Homo sapiens: one gene and its partner. The main gene of each other region encodes a partner of the protein of the gene in region 2 in a complex. Each region holds a gene or a part of one and is shown on either strand. Other genes may lie near its edges.

Region 1 (7,026 bases), on a different chromosome or scaffold from region 2:
GTGTACATGAATATATTTGGGGGTAAAGACACAGGTATCAAATAGAAAATACTCTGCTTTTGTTGTGAGTGAATTACAGAGAGGGGGATTTTTTTCACTAGACATACTTTGTTTATTTTAAACAAGTTAAGAATTTATTTGGAAGTTCTGGAAAAGAGATGATAGGTGTAGAAAAATGAAAGGTGGGAAGCTACAAATAGTAATTTTACCTATAAATTAACATCAGGGCTTTTGTTTTGTTTTTGCAATGAATTTAGCTCCTTGATAATCTTGCTGAAAGAGTAGCTATTAGTGTTAAAGCAGACCTAAAGTTAATAGAAAAAGGTAAAAAAATGGAGAGGGACAGTGTATCCAGGAAAGAGAATGGGGAAAATTGATGTTAGTGGGACCCTATAGAGGCTGTTCTGTGAAGTATATTGATTTGGAAGGTAGGTGTTGCCCATAGAATTGGAAGGGGCACATTCACCAGGAGTAGGAGTGAAAAAGAAGCCTGAATTGGCAGACTAACAGGCTGCTAACTGCATGTTGGAAAGTGGTTTCTAAACCGTGGGTAGAGGAAAGCCCCCATTGCAAGTGGTCTGAACAAGAATGACTCTCTGGAAATAGGTATGAGTTACTCCTGCAAATCTCTTGCCAGTTTTTTGGAAATGCAAATGCTGTCTGTCAAGATGAAGTTGATAAAGCTTTTTGGTATTAACGCTTCTTAGGTATTAAAGAAACAACTACCTTTTTTTGTGACTATTTTATAGTGGGAGTTGGGTTGGCAAGGAGGACTGAAGTCAATATGTATTTTTATATGCGTTGTGCTCCGGGGAGGAAATTTTTGCCTACGTGTGTAGGTCTTAAAATACAGTTATTTGAAAAGATTCAGGTAAAGAATCAGGAAACCAATTTTCCAAACTTTGAGTCTAATGTACAGTCATGAGTCAAACAGCGGGAGTATGAATGTCTCAGAAATGAAACGCTTTTTGATAGTAGAATTTAGCAGGACACAAATACGTGTCAATTGAGATTGTGAACAAACCCCTTTCTAAAGTTGACAGATACGTAGGGACAGGAAATGTCCTCCAGTAGGAAGGTTTATAGAACCTCCCCCAGTCGTCGTCCTTAAAACCTGTTCCTCATTACATATAGCTCGTCCGTCCTCCTACCCGCAGAAAACCTTTGGAAAGGAAAACGTATCCTTTGTGAATTAGATTGCTCTGTGTGTGTGTTTAAAATTTTTTTAACTACAGTGCTGCCTCGGTGAGATTTTTAAGTTGTAACATAGCCCCATTGGGCTTTATATGATAGGAGGAGGAAAGGTTATAAAATTAGGCACCGTTTAGAAGGTGGAAGAAGCTTAGAGGCCCTAAACTGTCGTATTAATTGATGCTCTAAGTGCCTAGGTAAGCAAAAGACAAAGGCCAGGGCTTGGTGTGAACTGCCTGGTGGCTTCGGCCTATGAGTGGGGGATGGGGCCCTTTGTGAAGTCGAGGGTTGGTGCGGAGGGAGAAAACTGCAGGTCTCCAGTCTATCCCCAGTGTGAGCTAGAGAGCGGACCATGAAGGAAGTGGGCAGACCCCGGGAAGTTAGAGGACGCCCGGGGAAAAGCAGGTCCGGGGAGGTGGGCCGAGAGTCCCGGCCAGCGTGCGGGGCGGAGGCAGGGTCCGGTGCACCTGTGCGGCCGCGGGCCGGCCACTTGGGGTCTGTGGTGCCCGAGTGGCGGGCGGGGGTGTTCGCGCCCTGCTTTCGCGCGCGGTCTCGGGCCAAGGTTCTGGGCGCCGGGAGAGGAGAGCTGGGGCGGCGCGGAGCAGCCCCCGTGCGGGCACCCTGTTCCCCTCCCCCGCCCGCAACTTCACCGGCGCGGCGCGAGCCGTCGGGGGCGCGCGCGGGGTGGGGGCGGCGTGGCCGGGCGGTGGCAGCCCACCGCTGGGGAGCGACCTGCGGTCTGGGCCTCCCGGGCACCCCGCCACGGCTGGCAGGTCACTCGGGCCCGAGGGGCCTCGTGGGGAGCGGCCATGTTGGCTTCGTCACTGAGGACTCCGGGCGGGTCGGGTGTTGAGCGAGGCCTCGGACCTTCGGCCTGTCGGGGGCGCCCTGCCGGGGTGGGCATGGGGGCATCTGAGGGGTGAAAGGGGCAAGGGAGGCTGGAGGCTGGCGTCCTTCCCACGCACCGATGGCTGTGATCTCTCCGTGCTGGGGAGAGGTGCAGGGGAGGGACTGAGGAAACCGGTCGGCAAGTGAGAAACTTTAAAATTAGGTCCTACATGGAAAACACCGAGGAATAGAACTGCCCTGGTGTGCGAGGCAAGGTTGGAAGCCAAACTTTGCAGATGAGAACAGGAGATTCCAGGCTGCCTCACTTCCTCCGTGAAAAGTTTTTTTCCTAAACTAGGGACCTGAAGTTCTTGATGTGTAGTTCCTCTTTGCCCAGTAGAATCCAGTGATCGCGCTTAGGTTTATCTGCAGACCTGCACGCTACAGGTGGGAGGCTTCCGCGCCTTAATGCTTCTTGTGTTTGTCTTTCCCATTTCTCCCACTCCAGAATTCAGAAGGAGCTGGCGGACATCACTTTAGACCCTCCACCTAATTGCAGGTGAGTTGCTTTTCGGATTTTTTCCATTTTTAAAATTCTTCTAACCTTTGTCTTGGGTTTTTCTTTTTATTATATACTTTTTCTTTGATTCTTTGGCTAATGCTTGTTATGGCACTAACATCACGTAACAGCTGAAATTTATTAACCTGAGTATAATGTTTTGATGAGCCTCTGACAAGCTCAGTACTGTTGAGAAGAAGTAATGGATTTATTTGGAGTGGATTTTTACATATATGAAACAAAACTAAAGTAAATTTAAAGGTGTCTCCTTGCCTAATCATGGGTCTTTGATATGCCATTAAAGATGATGTAAAACCTTTCAGATGCGAAGGACATTTTGGTTTGGAAAACTGCTTTGCTACAGTAATCTCTTATTCAATCTCTGCTAAGCTAAGAGAACATTAGAGTTAAACACTGGATCTTCAAACTTACTCCATAGCATATAGATTTTTTATTAGACTTTTGGCAGAGCAATTCAGGAAACAATTTCTGGCTTTGATAAAGGTTTTCTTTTAAATTGTAGAGTTAAACTTTCATGGGGTGTTTTTTTCACTTGCTTTATTCAGACTGTATACATATGTGTGTTTCAGTTTCAAAACAAATTGAAACCAGCTTTCTAAGGGTTTGTTGATCACAGCTTTATTTAGAGAAGCCATTTTGCTACTGTTGAGTCAAGGTGGAAGACTTGATGACTTTACTAGATCAACAATGAAGTGAGGGTAACTTACAACTATGTATTAGAATAGAACCATTTATTTAAGGGAGGTCCTGTAACTCCCATACTTTAAAAATTAAGTATAACATTTAACCTAGTTCTCAAGATCGGCGTTGGAAAGGGATGTGAGATTTCAGAAATACTCTAAACTTATTGGTAGGAGTAGAAGTTACTGACAAAGTATTCAGCGGCTATACACAATTTTTAAGATGAGTGTGTGGGAATAGGTTGAAAAGCTAAATGAAGTATTTTGTTTAGTAACAGTGAACTTTGGAAACTAATTAGTGGATTAAATACAAAACTATTGCCGTTTTGGTTACATTCATTCTTAATGTTGATTAGGTGTGGGATGCTCTTCCGTGAAACTTTGTCCTGTTTTGTAAGGAAAGTCATTTTGAGTTTGAAATGCTCTTAAACTATAGTTTATAATTGGAACACTTAATCATTCTGGGGAATTCTTTCCTGGCTAATAATCTCTCAAGATGGTTGAGAAGTGGAAAAACCATAAGACTTAGGCCTAACTCATTATTTTGATGGTGGTGGTTCACGTGGAAGCCTGTAGCTTCCCTTGGTTGTTTGTGTGGAATCCATGTACATTCCCCAAGGTGGTTCTGTGCTGTCTAGTTATTGCTCCTGCTTGGTATTGTGTGTCTCCTATGTGTGTGTTATTAATAACATTGATTAAAACATATAATGGCTTTCTTGTGAATAAGCACAGTCAAATCTAAAATTGTAAACCATTTGAAGATTTTCATGGGATTAAGCATTTAAAAAAAAAAAACAGTGTAAGTACACTTCAGTTTCACATCGTTTTAACTGAGTTTATGTGTGAAAGATTTATGCTCCTGAGGCATGTGGAACTTTTTTATCTTTGGGAAACCCTCCCAATTACCCCTTCAAGGTGAAACGTTTGGGAATTACCTGTGGTCAGGGGATGCACCAAACTGGGTGGCTGTTGGGTGATTGGTGTTACGGAGTCAAAGCTCAAAATACTAAATTTTAAGAAAAATCTCTGATTTGAGAGAAAATACGAGGCATCTTCATTTTGCAAGAGAATGTATATTACATTGTCTTTTAACAATAAAGATGACTTTATTTTCTGAAGATATTTTCCAGTGGGGCCGTTTGAGTAATGTGAATTAAAATTTTTACTTTTGGTTGGCTAATGGTGCTGTCTTAATGTTATATAGTAGTCCCAATATTCAGCTCTCTTAAAAGAGTTCGGTTTTACGTTTTGTGCTGTTACCTTTTGGAATTTAATTATTTAGTATTTTAATGTACTTTATTGGAGATAAAGATGGATTATTTATTTATTTATTTATTTATTTTCTTTTTGAGACGGAGTCTTGCTCTGTAGCCCAGGCTGGAGTGCAGTGGCATGATTTCGGCTCATTGCAACCTCCACCTCCCGGGTCCTGGTTCAAGCAATTCTCCTGCCTCCTGAGTAGCTGGGATTATAGGCACGTGCCACCATGCCCAGCTAATTTTTGTATTTTGGGTAGAGATGGGGTTTCACCATGTTGGCCAGGCAGGTCTTGAACTCCTGACCTTGTGATCTGCCCGCCTTGGCCTCCCAAAGTGCTGGGGTTACGGGCGTGAGCCACTGCACCTGGCCTTGGGGATACTTTTTGAAGTCAGCGTCCAATGAAAATCTATGAATTAAGTGATATATTAAGTGCGTACATGTTTAAAATTACCCTCAGCATGAAAGCATGAGATTTGAATGAGTTAAATAATTGGTTTTCAATTAGTCTGTCTTATATTTTTACCCTTTGCCATACTTCCTTTCTTCAGTCAGCATTCAGTGTGTAGTTTTAAACACGTTATTAAAATATGGCACTTGGCACATAGTAACTTCTCAGTAAATACAAAAATTAGCCGGGCATGGTGATGCACTCCAGCCTGGGCGACAGAGTGAGACCCTGTCTCAAAAAAAAAAGTTGATTATTGCAAATCAGTAGAATTGCTCCTCTTGAAGGAAGGTGCACTGTTTGTGTTCACTAATTTTGGCACTTGGCAAAAATATTTGAAGTTACTGAGCATCAAAACTTATGTGAAATGCAATTGCTCAATATGTTATAATGTATGAAAACATAAAATTAAATTCTTAATGTTGTATATTATGTTGGGTGGATATTTTTTAGAACACAGTACAGATTGTGTTCAATGACCTGGTCCAAAGTCATTTTAAGTAAGTATTTTCAAACTGCTTTATGTTGCCATAGAAATCAAATTCTTAATTTTAGTATCTGTGATTTGTGTGTGTGTGTATATATATGCATACACACACACACAAAATAGTTTCCCAACTCACTCTTCATTTTGGTTAGGCTTTTATTCCCATATCATTTAGCTCTATTCTTTTAGGGAAAAAAATATGTTAACTTTGTAATGATTCCCTAAAGCGTGCCAGATCTTAGATTGTAAAATTATGCCTTTTAGATAGCTGATGAACTCTGGGCCACCAGAGTCAGTTTTGCAGCTGTTATTTATAGCCCAGGGCTCAAACTTTGCTAAATTGACTAGTTATAACTAGCCTGTAGACACGAATATCTGTAGACAGTATGTCTATACAGACTAAATGGCATATTTTGCCTAAGTCCTTTAAACTTCAGATTTTATTTAATGGATATATTTGTTTCATGAGTAAATGTCTCAGTGACTTAACCTAGAAATTCAGATGGGGTGCTATTTTAGGATAAAATGTCTGAAAAGTCATTAAACACTTCAAGCATGGGTGAGAATAATAAAAATACATTTCTTTCTTTCTCACTTTTTTTTTGAGACAGGGTCTCATTTTGTCACCCAGGCTGGAGTGCAGTGGTGCTCACTGCAGCCTTGACCTCCTGGGCTTAAGCTGTCCTCCTGCTTCAGGCCCCCAAGTAGCAGGAACTACAGGCGTTCGACACTACACTCGGTTAATTTTTTGTATTTTTTTGTAGAGACCAGGTTTTACCTATTGGCCAGGCTGATCTTAAACTCCTGGCCTCAAGCCGTCCACCCACTTTGCCCTTCCAGAGTGCTGGGATTACAGGCGTGAGCCATGGTGCCTGGCCCTGATACTAGTTTTTCTGTATGTGACAGAATTTCCATTTAGCCTTCTTTTGATAGCTTTTTTTTCCCTAACACTGCCTATATTTTAAATAGTTTTAAGCCATTATATTATACAAGAATGCATGTTTTTGAAAAATTCAAATACAGAAGTTTGTGGAGTAAAAGGCAAAAGATAGTCCTGATGACCTCTTCTGATCCTGCTCCTTGCACACAGATGCTCCAAGTTAGCACTTTGTATACTTCCACGTAGTTTCTGTGAATTTACATTGTGTTTTTCTGGCATTCCAATACCTCCTCGAATTGGTGGTAATGGTAATGAGATGTCAGTTCAGAAGTCCCAGGCTGCTCATCATGGTTCACAATGGAAAGAGATCCTTTTCTTGCAACAGTGGAGTGTTACATACCTCGTCCAGGTTCAGCATGTTTTAAATGGTTGTTTGGGTATAAGAAATAGGTTCAGCAGAAGTCATCCTTTATAAAACCCTGTATCTTATGTGCTAAAAAGTATTCTTCCTTTTAGCATCTTTCATTTATCTGATGTTACTAAATGCGTTAAGGATAGAAGTGTGACTTAAACATCTGAATGATGTTTAGTTTCACCATTGCAGTGTGTATACCTTTATGCATGTAAAGGCAGTGTTGAAAAATTGTGACAACCAGGAGACTGGGGTTTCAGCAC
Region 2 (7,026 bases):
TGCCCTAATACAGGTGGTGTTTTTTCTTTTTGAGACACAGTCTCGCTTTGTCGCCCAACCTCCGCTTCCTGGGTTCAAGCGATTCTCCTGCCTCAGCCTCCCAAGTAGCTGGGATTATAGGTGCATGCCATCATACCCTGCTAATTTTTGTATTGGAGACAGGGTTTTACCATGTTGGCCAGGCTGGTCTTGAACTCCTGACCTCAGGTGATCCACCTGCTTCGACCTCCCATTTTTTTTTTTTTTGAGTCATGGTCTTGCTCTGTCACCCAGACCATAGTGCAGCGGCACAAACACAGCTCACTGCAGCCTTGACCTCCTGGGCTCAAGTGATCCTCCTGCCTCAGTCTCCTAAGTAGCTGGGACCACAGCTGCATGCCACATGCCCAGCTAATTTTTAAAACTTTTTTTGTAGAGACAAGGTCTCATCACATTGCCCAGGCAAGTCTGGAACTACTGAACTCAAGCCATCCCCCCACCACGGCCTCCCAAAGTGCTGGGATTACAGGTGTGAGCCACCATGTCTAGCTTTTTTTTCTAACTTTAAAAAAGATTATTTCCCATGTCGGTAATCCCAGCACTTTGGGAGCAAGACTCCATAGCAAAAAAAAAAAAGAGATTATTTCCCTGGTGGTCTAGTGGGTAGGGGGAAATAAAAGATTATTGAAACGTAATATACACAGAGGAAAGTACACGTAAGTCTATACAGATCAATGAATTTTACAAACTCAGCATACCATGTAACCTGCACCAGATCAAGAAACAACTTTGTTAGGTCCCTTAAAACCCCACTGGGGACATGGGGGTGTTTATGTTAATATCCTCTGTTTACAGCTGATCAAAAAAGATCAGCTCAGTAGGGGCAGGGCTGGAATTTGAACTCAGGTGTCATTATTACCACATGAAACCTTTACAGTAGCTATACTATCATTCATTCATTCCACAAAATTTAAGTGGTTACTTTTTTTTTTTTTTTTGAGGCGGAGTCTCACTCTATTGCCTAGGCCGGAGTGCAGTGGTGGGATCTTGGCTCACTGCAACCTCCACCTCGCGGGTTCAAGTGATTCTCCTGCCTCAGCCTCTGGAGTAGCTGGGATTACAGGCGCCTGCCACCGCACATGGCTAATTTTTGTATTTTTAGTAGAGACGGGGTTTCAACATCTTGGCCAGGCTGATCTTGAATTCCTGACCTCGTAATCCACCTGTCTCGGCCTCCCAAAGTGCTGGGATTACAGGCGTGAGCCACTGCGCTTGGCTTTTTTTTTTTTTTTGAGACGAAGTCTCCTTCTGTCGCCCAGGCTGGAGTGCAATGGTGCAATCTCGGCTCACTGCAACCTCTGCCTCCTGGGTTCAACCAATTCTCCCATCTCAGCCTCCTGAGTAGCTAGCACTACAGGCATGTGCCACCACGCCTGGCTAATTTTTTATACTTTATTAGTAGAGACAGGGTTTCACCATGTTGGCTAGGCTGGTCTCGAACTCCTGACCTCAAGTGATCTGCCCGCCTTGGCCTCCCAAAGTGCTGGGATTACAGGCATCAGCCACTGCACCTGGCCTAAGTGATTACTATGTGCCAGGCATTGGGTAAACTGGTGATACAATGGTTAGCAAGACAAAGAGACAGATAAGATCCTTGCCCTCATGAAGGAGCTTATATAATAGAAAAAAAGAAAAACAAGTCAACAAAAGTTGTCATAAATGCTATAAAGAACACAAACATGGTGCTCAATGAGAGAATTAAGGGAGTAAAATGACCTAGTTTTAAAGTGGTCAGGGAAGGTCTCTCTGAGGAGGTGACTTTACAGCTGAAAGCTCAAGGTTAAAGAAGATAGCCACACAAAGAAAAGTGGAAGGATGCCAAGAAGAAGGCACAGCATGTGCAAGTCTCCAGAGGCAGGCTGGAAAACACTGGTTGAACTGGATCCAGGAACTGAAAAATATCAGTGTGGTTGGAATGACTTTGGAGGGAGACAGGAAAGGGCCAAATATATAACCTAAGGTTAAGAGTCAGAATAAAATCCAAACAGCAGAGGGACTATATTATAGAGTTAAGCAGGGGAGTGATATATTATTTGTGATTATTTGAAAATATTTTTATGAAACATTTCAAACGTGTAAAAAAGATATGAACACTCATGTACCACCCAGCATTATCAAATCTAAACGCTATTGTTAGATTCAAAATTTTGTTAATAATTAAAACATACATGATACAGCAATGCAACTAAACAACTGTCTATTCCTTTGTTTAGTTTTTCAATGTTATCAGTACAAATTCATCCTATGATCTCCCCAGTAGTCTCGATCTCCTCTGAATGTATTCAGGCACCTCAGGTTTTCTGTTAAACCAATTTTCCTGAAGAAGTCGCTCCTACAGCATCTGACCTGCTCCTGCAGTGGCTCTTCTCTATGCCTAGTACACAGCTGTCAGCCTGGAAGCCTCTTTCACTGCACTGTCACCTGTCTTCCCCTTTCCTGCCTTTCCCTCTCATTTTTGCAAATATTTCCAGAAACTTTCTGAGAAGGGGAATGATGAAAAACTCTGAGGTACTGCATGTCTAAAAAAATGTATTTAGCCTACTGTAACACCAAATTGATAGTTTGCCCGAGTTTAAAATTCCAGGTTGGAAATAATTTTCCCTTAGAATTCTGAACAGATTCTCCAATTGCTATCTAGCTTCTAGTGCTACTTTCAGGGAAGGCTGAAGTCATTTCAAGTCTATTTTTTAACGTGTTCTATTTCTCTTCTCTAGAAGCTTTTAGGATTTTTTTTTCCCTCAGTGTTCTGACATTTTATGATAATGTCTCTTAATGGGAACCTACCTTTATCCTTCATTATGTTGGGACCTAACTGGCCCTTTCAATTCAGAAACAAAGATCCTTCAATTATGGGACACTTTCTGAATTATTTCACTGATGCTTTTCTCCTCTGTTCTGTTAATTATGTATTCTGATCACTAGGTTTATTAGTTCACGTGTTTATATATACCAGTTTACCATGCTATACCCCACTCTTTTGTTGTCCTCCTCTTGTTTTAGAGATAAGAGTCATGCTCTGTCACCCCAGGCTAGAGTGTAGTGGTGTGATCATAGCTCACTGCAGCCTTGAACTACTGGGCTCAAGTGATCTTTCTGCCTCTGCCTCTCAAGTAGCTGGGACTACAGGCATGCATCTACCATGCCCGGCTAATTTTTTAAAAAATAATTTAGGCTGGGCGCGGTGGCTCACGCCTGTAATCCCAGCACTTTGGGAGGCTGAGGCAGACGGATCATGAGGTCAGGAGATAGAGACCATCCTGGCTAACATGGTGAAACCCTGTCTCTACTAAAAATACAAAAAAGTAGTCAGGCGTGGTGGTGGGCGACTGTAGTCCCAGCTTCTCGGGAGGCTGAGGCAGGAGAATGGCGTGAACCCGGAAGGCGGAGCTTGCAGTGAGCTGAGATCACGCCACTGCACTCCAGCCTGGGCGACAGAGCAAGACTCCATCTAAAAAAAAAAAAAATTTTTTTTTTAATTTTTAAATCATTTTTTTTGAGACGGAGTCTTGTTGTGTTGTCCAGACTGGAGTGCAGTGGTGCAATCTCAGCTTACTGTAATCTCTGCCTCCCAGCTTCAAGCGATTCTCTTGCCTCAGCCTCCCAAATAGCTGAGATTACAGGCGTGCACAATCACGCCTGGCTAATTTTTGTATTTTTATTACAGATGGGGTTTCACCATGTTGGCCAGGCTGTTCTTGAACTCCTGACCTCAGGTGATCCACCCACCTTGGCCTCCCAAAGTGTTGGGATTACAGGCATGAGCCACCGCGCATGGCCAACAATTTTTTTTTTTTTTTGAGATAGAATTTTGCTTTTCTTGCCCAGGCTGGAGTGCAATGGTGCGGTCTTGGCTCACTGCAACCTCCACCTCCTGGGTCCAAGTGATTCTCCTGTCTCAGCCTCCCAAGTAGCTGGGATTACAGGTGCTCGCCACCATCCCTGGCAAGTTTTTTGTATTTTTAGTAGAGATGGGGTTTCACCATATTGGCCAGGCTGGTCTTGAACTCCTGACCTCAAGTGATCTGCCTGCCTCAGCCTCGAAAAGTGCTGGGATTACAGGCGTGAGCCACCACGCCCAGCCCCAACAATTTTTTTTTAGACACAGGGTCTTACTATGTTGCCCAGTCTGGTCTCAAACTCCAGGCCTCAAGTAATCTTTCGGCCTCACCCTCCTCAGTAGCTGTCCTCAACCTCATGCTGGTTCCACCTCCTCTGCTCAACCTTTAAATGTTGGGGCACCCAGGGCTTACTCCTGAGCCGCCTTCTCTATTATCAACATTGTCTCTAGGTGAACTTATTCAGGCTTTAAATACTCCTGTGCTGATGATTCCTAAATTTTTATATCCCACTCTCTCCAGAAATCCCAGTGTCTTCTTGACATTTCTACTTGGATTGCCTGACAGGCATTTCAAACTTTTTGTTTTGTTTTGTTTTCTGAGACTGAGTTTCGCTCTTGTTGCCCAGGCTGGAGTGCAATGGTGCGATCTTAGCTCACCACAACCTCCGCCTCCCAGATTCAAGCAATTCTCCTGCCTCAGCCTCCCGAGTAGCTGAGATTACAGGCATGCGCCACCATGCCCGGCTAATTTTTTTTTTTTGTATTTTTAGTAGAGACGGGATTTCTCCATGTTGGTCAAGGCTGGTCTTGAACTCCCGACCTCAGGTGATCCGCCCGCCTCAGCCTCCCAAAGTGCTGGGATTACAGGCGTGAGCCACTGCGCCCGGCGGCATTTCAAACTTAACATGGCCAAAACAAAAACTGAATTTCACTCAAACCTACTACTCCTTCGGTCTTCCATCTCAGTAAAAAGCACCAACAACCACTAAGATGCTCAAGCCAAAAATTTAGGAATTGTCCTTGATTCTACTCTTTCCCCCCACTCCATAATCTATCCAATTCTGTAGCTCTACCTATTAATACAGCCCAAATCTATCCTTCTTACCTCTACTATCACCTCCATTCTATTGCAAGTCATAGCTGCAACAATGTCTCTCTCTGCTGTACTCCTATAACGATCTCCTAATTGGTCTTCCAAAATCTACTTTTGCCATCCTAAGACCTATGATCTACAAAGAAGCCAGAGTAATCTGAAAAAGGCAGGTCACATCACTTGGCAGCTTAAAATCCTGTAAGAGCACCATGAATTTGATTCTAACTTTTCTTTTTTTTTTTTTAAGGCAGAGTCTCGCTCTTGTCACCCAGGCTGAAGTGCAGTGGCATGATCTTGGCTCACTGCAACCTCTGCCTCCTGGATTCAAGCGATTCTCCTGCCTCAGCCTCCCAAGTAGTTGGGACTGCAGGCACCCGCCACCACCCCCGGCTAATTTTTGTATTTTTAGTAGAGACAGGGTTTCACCAGGTTGGCCAGGCTGGTCTCAAACTCCTGACCTCAGGTGATCCACCCACCTTGGCCTCCGAAAGTGCTGGGATTACAGGTGTGAGCCACTGTGCCAGCCTGATTCTAACTTTTTTCATTCTGATTTACAAAGCCCTATGTAATCAGGTCCCTGCCTACTTCTCCTCTCTGAACACATTTCACTTACAAGTGTAAATCACAATCTGTTAAGACATTCATTTAGCTATGAAATTAAGATAATCTTTTTTTGCAACAGAAAATTGCTAGATACTATTCAATCATTCTATGTCTTCATTTCAAGGAAGGTCCAAGAAAAAAAATGTGTTTTGGAAGTCATGAAATAAGATCTAATTAATAAAATGCCTCATCTGGTATTCTATTTTTGGTTCCAATTTTTAGATTTCTGATGATTTCTATAAGCACAGAAAAACAAGAACATGCTCCTCAGTCTCTCTGAGGTACTGTGCCATTCCTTGACCACTTACCCTGTGGGTAGACACTCTTCTAGTCTCTTGTACTGGTAGCCAGAGTTAGGGTTGATTTGGCCTCCTGGGGTACAGGCTGTAGCCTGGATAGTTAGTTGATGGCAGGCACACTTGGACCTATATGACAGAGGGAAATAAAGGAAAGGAGCGGGGGGATCAGAGAACAAAAATAACACAATACACATGTACCCAAGGTTGCTCAGTGTGGCCATGTCAGACTCCAGCCTCCCTACCTCATAGCTTTCATGGAGGCCTTATAGCAGGAGTTCCAGGTGAGGGAGGAGGTAAAGGAAGATGGGGAAAGCAGTACAGATACAAGGCAAAGGAAGAGGTGAAACAGACACCATAACAAAGTTGGAAGCAGGGGCAGCAATTCCCCCCACCAACTCACTTGTCCCGACACCCATCCTTGCAGTCACAGCCAACCAGAAATTCAGGGCCTGTGTTAATGAAAACACCCTTGCCCGGGATACGTTCCTTGCTGTAGGCCACCTGGGGTGGAGGGGTTGTGTCAATCTCATTGACACAGGATAGGGGAACATCTTCCTTCCCATAAGTGATGTCCAAAATATAGTAAAAAGGCTTATAGGGCTGAAACTTTCGGTCCACAAGAACATATGGATCCAAACAGAACATCTCCAGGAAGAGGAAGTCACAGCCAGTCTCGAAAAGGTAGCGTTCTATCTCCTGCATTGTCCGAAGGCAGAGACCACAAGGTGTCTTATAGATAACATGAAAGCCCATCTTGCGGTTAACTCGACGCCGGGCTGTCATCCGCCGGAAGTCATATAGTAACGGGACCAGCAGAGGGTTCTTGCCCCGGTACTGCTCATTCCTCATAGGTCTGACTCGAGACAGACAGGTATAGCTGCAGACATGAGGTAAGTAGAAAAGCTTCTCCATGGGAGCACGGTAGGAGGGCTCTGCTGGGGCCCGCTCCAGCATGCCATGGAAGACTGGGGGTGCTGGAGGGGCCGGGAGTGCTGAGGGTGCTGGGGCAGAGGCTGTGGAGCCTAAAGGTGATCTGCAAATGAGATGCAAGTGATCAGATCGGAAGGCAACAGGACCTCTGTTTTATAATTAACCCTCCAGGTAGCTAAGCCATTTCTCTCATCTTTCAAACAGCTGTGCTCCTGAAGCTAAAG

The links. The genes of interacting proteins can lie anywhere in the genome.
Region 1: the proteins of SETDB1 (region 2) and UBE2E1 are in contact, whole or in part, in a crystal structure (PDB 8IYA), measured with the Homo sapiens proteins. Residues at the interface, in NP_001138887.1 of Homo sapiens: Glu868, Gly869, Tyr870, Glu871, Ser872; in NP_003332.1 of Homo sapiens: Asn125, Ser126, Gln127, Val129, Cys131, Leu132, Lys136, Asp163, Pro164, Leu165, Val166, Gly167, Ser168.

Annotation. Positions count from the first base shown.
Region 1 is NC_000003.12:23,808,933-23,815,958, forward strand, and holds part of UBE2E1 (ubiquitin-conjugating enzyme E2 E1), read left to right. Parts: intron 1-1,521; exon of another isoform or gene 1,522-1,543; coding exon of another isoform or gene 1,544-1,596; intron 1,597-2,527; coding exon 2,528-2,578; intron 2,579-7,026. UniProt on the Homo sapiens protein: Accepts ubiquitin from the E1 complex and catalyzes its covalent attachment to other proteins. Catalyzes the covalent attachment of ISG15 to other proteins. Mediates the selective degradation of short-lived and abnormal proteins.
Region 2 is NC_000001.11:150,950,337-150,957,362, reverse strand, and holds part of SETDB1 (histone-lysine N-methyltransferase SETDB1), read right to left. Parts: intron 6,906-7,026; coding exon 6,273-6,905; coding exon of another isoform or gene 6,269-6,272; intron 5,999-6,268; coding exon 5,882-5,998; intron 1-5,881. UniProt on the Homo sapiens protein: Histone methyltransferase that specifically trimethylates 'Lys-9' of histone H3. H3 'Lys-9' trimethylation represents a specific tag for epigenetic transcriptional repression by recruiting HP1 (CBX1, CBX3 and/or CBX5) proteins to methylated histones.